Homo sapiens: one gene and its partner. The protein of the gene in region 1 purifies or fractionates together with the protein of each later gene. This does not show direct contact. Each region holds a gene or a part of one and is shown on either strand. Other genes may lie near its edges.

What was found. The genes of interacting proteins can lie anywhere in the genome.
Region 2: the proteins of SPTLC3 (region 1) and PTH2R purify together in Homo sapiens (co-immunoprecipitation; one large-scale study listed by IntAct). This does not show direct contact.

The regions. Positions count from the first base shown.
Region 1 is NC_000020.11:13,067,972-13,071,471, forward strand, and holds part of SPTLC3 (serine palmitoyltransferase 3), read left to right. Parts: intron 1-3,500. UniProt on the Homo sapiens protein: Component of the serine palmitoyltransferase multisubunit enzyme (SPT) that catalyzes the initial and rate-limiting step in sphingolipid biosynthesis by condensing L-serine and activated acyl-CoA (most commonly palmitoyl-CoA) to form long-chain bases.
Region 2 is NC_000002.12:208,490,292-208,493,791, forward strand, and holds part of PTH2R (parathyroid hormone 2 receptor isoform 1 precursor), read left to right. Parts: intron 1-347; coding exon 348-389; exon of another isoform or gene 390-494; intron 495-2,972; coding exon 2,973-3,368; 3' UTR 3,369-3,500. UniProt on the Homo sapiens protein: This is a specific receptor for parathyroid hormone. The activity of this receptor is mediated by G proteins which activate adenylyl cyclase. PTH2R may be responsible for PTH effects in a number of physiological systems.

The sequences.
Region 1 (3,500 bases):
CTTTTCACTTTCATACAAGCATCAAGCCTTGTAGCAGGGTTTTTTGGAAAGAGCATGGTTTGGGAACTGGAAATATTAATAATTCCCATTTTGTCCAATCAAGTTTTCTGACTTTCCATCAACTTATCTATAAAAGTTTGATAGAAATATCTATAACACTTGGAAAATTATAAATTATCGTACAAATATAAAGATTGAAAAATAAAGATTATGACATTGCAGAAGAAACAATGCTATTTTTGTGGGTCTTTTTAGGTTTAACTCACTTCTTTCTACACTCCATTCTCCAAAATGATTGTGTCCTTATGGCCTGGTATTTTCTATCATATCTAGCCATTTGTATAGAAAGCAAAATAAAGATGGTAAGCCAAATGACAAATTAAGTCTATAGATAAATAAAGATATATCCTATTGCAATGCTTTTGTTTTTGAAATATCAAGTCCAGCTTCATTTTCTGGTTTAGTTAAAATGCTGTGGGAAGCTTCTCTGGGACTAGAGGACATTGACCTTTGGAAGGCGTTGGCTGCTCCTGAAGAAAGCTCCTGGCTGTTTAAAGGAATGGGGTGGAGTGGAAATACACACAGACAGGAAACCTCACAGGTGGGGAGAAGAGGGCCACGCCCAAAAGCAAGTCAGTTCATTCACCGATCAGATCTTTAATTCTAAGTAGGTCTCCAAACTCAATTGGCCCTCTCAGAAACATGTAGGTTACTGACCTTGTGTATCAGATCTGGGTTAATGTTTATGTCATGCACAAAGAAATAACTCTGAGTACTTTAAAAAAAAAAAAACAACAACAACAACACTAGCCCTTCCTTTTTGCAGGGGAGTTGCAAGTACTTAATTTATACAATTTCCATTAAGCATGAAGATTATTCCCTAGAAGGAAGTCTTTTCTGACCCTGCAGAATATATTAGAATCCCTGTATCTTGCCCTCAAAGCATTTATCTCAGTGAAGAGCCAGCTGTCCATTTCTACATAGGTACAAATTCTGAATCCCTGAGTCAGGAGGCAGAGAGGTTAGACAGGATGAAGTATTTTCCGACCTTCTCTTAGGTGGCCATGACAATGCATCTTCATGTGGCATGGGCTGGGAAGCCATGGGCTGTTTTTTCAAGCCAACGCCAAGTTCCCTATGACTAAAGGACACTCCTACTATATATAGTCTGGCAACCTGCTGGCCCTAGTTTTCCATATCACGGGCCAGGGTTTTTGTCATCACTGGTGTTTTGGAGGGAAGCTAGGTATGACCGAAATCACTCTGAAGTCACTGTCTAGGGGAGTGGGTGAGGTCCGAGGCTGACCAGAGTTCAAGTCACGCACCTTTCTGGGCCTGATTCTCCTCATGGGCCGAGTGGGTGTTTGAGCTCTAAAACAGCAGTCCCCGATCTTTTTGGCACCAGGGACTGCTTTTGAGGAAGACAATTTTTCCACCAAAAGCCAGGTGGGGTGAAGGGGTATAGTTTCAGGATGAAACTGTTCCACCTCAGATCATTAGGCATTAGATTCTCATAAGGATCACAAAACCTAGACCCCTCGCATGCGCAGTTCACAATAGGATTTGCACTCCTATGAGAATCTCATGCCACTGCTGATCTGACAGGAGGTGGAGCTCGGAGCCCAGGTGGTAATGCTCGCTCACCCGCTGCTCACCTCCTGCTGTGTGGCCTGGTTCCTAACAGGCCACAGACTGGTACCTGTCTGCAGCCCAGGGCTTGGGGACCCCTGCTCTGTGATTGTTGTGGCCCCTCTAGCCCTGGTGCCCTGTGCATCTTGTAGTTCCAAATCTGAAATTAATTTTAATTTTATAGACAGAATACTTTGATTCTTGTCTCCTCTCCAAAACCAACTGATACTTTATTTTGGGTAAGATTCCTCATAAAACCTAAAATTATAATTCTCTTCAGAGTCCAGAAATATTACTTACACACCTACTGCTCTCTTTTCTCATGATAGGATGAGTTTATAGATTATTATTTCAAATAAGACTTTTAAAATTATAAATAGAGAAACACAACATTTGGGGATATAGAATAATCCACAAAGCAGTAAACAGTCTGAAAAAAATGTATTGAATCAAAGAAGAAATAGTTTGAGAATGAGTTTTCTAGAATTATATAATCTTGTAGCCTCAAAAAATATGTCTCTTTCCCTGTGAGAAAGACATATAAAGAGTATAATTGATTATCAGAAACTTGGAGCTTTAAATCATAACAAAACCTACATCACAGCTACTTAAAGAAAATGCATTCAAGGTGAGACTTTTAAATGTAGAATTGCCCGACCATCCTTCAAATTTAAACAGTATATGCTTATGAACATTCTTTCCTACAAAAGAAAAGTATACTTTTTCCCCAAGAAATGATGCTGTTGTCACCAAGGACCAAAGGATGAAGTGACAGAACGATCTGTGGCTTGGGTGTAGCCATCTGCCATCAAAACCTGCCTATTCTCCATATTATATTCTGCAATGAACCAGTGCAGAGAATGAGTGGGCAAAGCGGTAGCATACGGTCATCCACAAAGGCACTCCCCATGGTCTCCTTGTTCCTTGAGGAAATCAGCTTCATTTAATAAGGGAAAGGAGAGCCAAGTGCTCCAAAGCATAGGCGGGAGAATGAGAAGGCTCACTCCCAATTATTCAGTGACCCCTCATTACCTGCAGGATAAAGGATGAGCTCTTCCTGCAAATGCTTCGGGTCCTCAAGCTTCCCACTGTCTGTGCCCAGCTGACATTGCAGCCTCACCCACGCTGTAGGGAGTCATTAGGGGATGGGGTCAGAGAGGTAACCAGAAGCTATATGAGTCAGGATGTCTAATCAGGAGTGAGGTGGGAGCCATTATAAGTTCTGAGCAAAGAGTGACAGCGTGTGCATTATATTTTATTCTTATCAATTCTTCCCAAATGCACTCCACATTCCCAGCATACAAACCCACTCCCCTGAGAACTCCCCAAGCATCCCTGCCCATAAAAATCTCATTCTGCTTTGGTGTCCATCTCCAAGGACTCTCCCACATAAAGCTTCCTTGATTCCTCCAACAAGGTAGGACTCTCCCTCCTACTGTAATCCCACGAATGTCCAAAGTGCTTGGCTTAGACGACAGTTACCATTATTGCATTTTCTGCCTTGGATTAATTTTCTTCTTGTTTGCTCCAAGAATACTCGCAGGAGAATCTTGAGGCTGCAGCATTCATCCTAAGAAAACCTTGCCATGAACTATTAATATCTCACTTGTATTATTTTCGCATTACTCCAGTATATCAACTTTGAAAACAAAAGACATCATTCTATTTACAGCATTCTGGTTTTAGTAATGGTATTTCCACTTACATAATATAGTAACTCTCTAGCTCACGGAAAATGTCAAATCCTAGAAAACGTAGCATTCCTACGCGTGATGTTAGCATCATTCTTTAACAGTTGTTAGCCAAAAATTAATTTGATGAATCTGATTTTTCCTAAATAGATTATTCTGATGCAGATGATTTTGATGTTA
Region 2 (3,500 bases), on another chromosome or scaffold:
TTTTCAGCATTTACAGCTTATAACTTCCTCTTACCAAGCAGAGGATAGGTATTATGTGATCCATGGGTCACAACATAAATGAAACTAATAGGATAGAAACCTATTCCTTGTGTATCTTGGAATGCTTTATTTAGTGACTTATTTGGTTCAGCTGACACCAAGGAAAGACGTCAAACAAATTTAATGTAAACATAAGGATTTGGAAACACTAGGAGAGAATAATTTGTATATAATTCTCTGAAGGAATCATAAAAAACAATTTTTGGACGTACACATTTTGGCACAAGATGCTTAAGTGCTGTGAGTTTCTGAGTTGGCAGTGGGCTGACTTTCTCTTTTGTCTGCAGGGTTTCTTTGTGTCTATCATCTACTGCTACTGCAATGGAGAGGTAGGTTTGTAGGAACCTTGGACAGGTCTCGCTTCAGCTTGTAAATGGCCATCACAATGTATCCTGAATCTCTTTAGAATTTCCAGGATTTCCAGGATGGAATGGGTGAGGAGAAGGAAGCTATTTTAATCATAAATTATTTTGGAAAAGAAAGAATTAGTGCAAATAACCTAAAGTCTTCCTCTTCTAGCACTTTTAAATGTGAACTCATCTGTACACTCTGACATTAAAAAGCAACTTGTTGGAATACAAACAGACACTTGGATGGACAGTGAACATCATATTCTGGTTAATACTTAAACTTCTATTCCATTTTAAGTTCTGTACAAAACTTATTAGTTTCCCTGGGACAAATTCATTCAAATATTTTGATGTTTTTTGAACTATAAGATGATGATGGGACAATTTTAGTTCATTTAGGAGTTGGCTGGAGAGAAGTAACTACACTAGATAATAATACATTTTACCTTGTAACTTTTAATATGCCCTGCTGTTGGATGAGCTGCCATGTTTCTTCTCTCAAATTTTAAGCTTGCTGCAGGCCCCAGAAGTGCACAGATACTTTTATTGCGGTACACCAGCTGATGCTTCTGACCATGTTTAGGGTTTGGACATTGTGGCATGCTAGTCCAGTGCTTGCAGAAAGAGCTTAAATTAATTTCCTGACTTACTTGTGTATTGTTCTTACCTTATTTTGCAGGAGGGGTAAGTAGGTCAGTTTAAGAGTTAAAGAAAGAGGAAAGAAACCCAAAAAGCACTCAACAGTCAAAGATGGGTTTATTTAGGAGAATAAACCTGGGAGGGGCTTCTGGCCAAGTTAGGTCAGAGAGCCTTCTCTCTTACAGACTAAGAGTTTTTAAGGGTTCAGGGTGGGAGAGCTTATCACAGGCTTGGACTGCTTCTGTATCTCTTTGTCTTGCTTATCTGGGAGGGAGAATTTTTGTGTTTTATCCATACATCTTCCTGCAGCTGCAGGCACAGCCCCTCCTACCCCCCGCCCCCCAAGTCTGCTTTTAGCTTCCATATCTTGGTGCACCTAAAGGGAAAGGAATGTATTTATTAGGACCCACTGTTTTACTGGGGTCCATTGTAGACTGTGAAGTTTTGTGGTTACCCAAGAGACTTTCTCCACTTCCTCTGTGCCCGAGCTGTCTTATCAGTGTTTTATACTGTCTGCTCTTTCTGGCTGCTTGTTGTTAGAAGGGAAGTGATTTCCTCAAAATGCATGAGGTTAGAAAGGGAGCTGGACTTAAAGTGGTGGTGTTTATCCAAGATGATGGTGCTTCTGCTCTGTCAGTCAGGTGTTGATTTGTTTTTGCCAAGATGAACAGATAGAAGTTTGTTGTTTCAGGTGACATCAGCATACTGGATTTCCACTGCTTCCCATGGAACTTCCAAATAAACTCTCTTCTGAAAAGTGGCAATTGAAGTAGAAATGAATCTTCAGTAGTAGGAATGGAAATAAGAGCCCCACCCTATTAAGAATGCATTTGCAGTGCCTGCTTTTCTATCCACGAGCCTTCTTTTCTCACTCTGACTCCTTTAGGCTGCCGATGCAGATTGATAGCATGACAGTTACATTTCAAATTGAGTACCTTCTACGCCATTCCTCAGCCTCAGCTGGTGCCAAAGACATCAGCAATTTAAGTGGTGAAAACAGATTTTATTCAGTAACTACTGACAGCAGGGGAAAGAGCTGAGCCCAATTCCACTTCACACAGAAGTGATTTGGGCATTTTAAAGGGAGAATGAGGGAGGTGGAGTGTAAGGGCTCAGTAGAGTCAAAGAAGTGAAAAAATATTTGGTCAGTATAAACACGTTTAGGCCAGCTGTGCTAGCAATCAGGCAGTTATTTAAGATAGAATTCTATCTTCCCACAGAGACTGGGAGACAAGAGGCCTTATCCCTCTTGATTTTTATATTTTGAAGGGATGGCTCTCAGGTCCTTGAGAGAGATGCTTCTGAGTTAGAAGAGCTACATATTTACAATTGTGAACCTTTTTAGTAAATGCCCTAAGAAAGGGGAGTCATGGGCCTATCATCAGGTGTGTGCTGGCTAGAGCAAATAGTAAATTCTCCTGGCAGCACTGAGCTTTCTCAGGCAGGCACTATCAATGGCTGAGATCATCCTAGGGATGCCACCTTGTGCTGCTAGAACCATGCTTGAGTTTGGGCAGGTCTCAGTGCAGGGGTTCCAGTGGGCTTGTCATGTGCCACGCGAGAGTTCTGAAGTTCTCACTGGCAATGTTTATCTTGAGTTTCTCTTCCAACCCAGAATCTCCTTTTTTTCCTCTCCCATATGTCAGGTATTTCTATGGGCTGCATTTAAACTTCTGTTTAAAGTCTGATCTTGGACAAGTCCCTTCACCTCTCTCTAAGCTTCAATTTGCTCACCTCCAAAACTAACACCTGTCTTGAAGGTTTTTTGAGGTTGAGAGAAAGTCATAGATAAAGTCCCTGGCACGTAGAGGAACCTCAATCAATGATTATTGCTGTCATTGAAATCAAGGCAAACATCTTTGTAACAAGGCTGCAGGGTCTCCTTTAGGATTTCTCATGCACAGCATGTTTCTCGTGGCTTAGGTTCAGGCAGAGGTGAAGAAGATGTGGAGTCGGTGGAACCTCTCCGTGGACTGGAAAAGGACACCGCCATGTGGCAGCCGCAGATGCGGCTCAGTGCTCACCACCGTGACGCACAGCACCAGCAGCCAGTCACAGGTGGCGGCCAGCACACGCATGGTGCTTATCTCTGGCAAAGCTGCCAAGATCGCCAGCAGACAGCCTGACAGCCACATCACTTTACCTGGCTATGTCTGGAGTAACTCAGAGCAGGACTGCCTGCCACACTCTTTCCACGAGGAGACCAAGGAAGATAGTGGGAGGCAGGGAGATGATATTCTAATGGAGAAGCCTTCCAGGCCTATGGAATCTAACCCAGACACTGAAGGATGCCAAGGAGAAACTGAGGATGTTCTCTGAATGGACATTTGTGGCTGACTTTCATGGGCTGGTCCAATGGCTGGTTGTGTGAGAGGGCTTGGCTGATACTCCTATGCTTGAGTTCAAAGGCTGAAAATTCAGTTAAGGTGTTACTTAATAATAGTTTTTAGG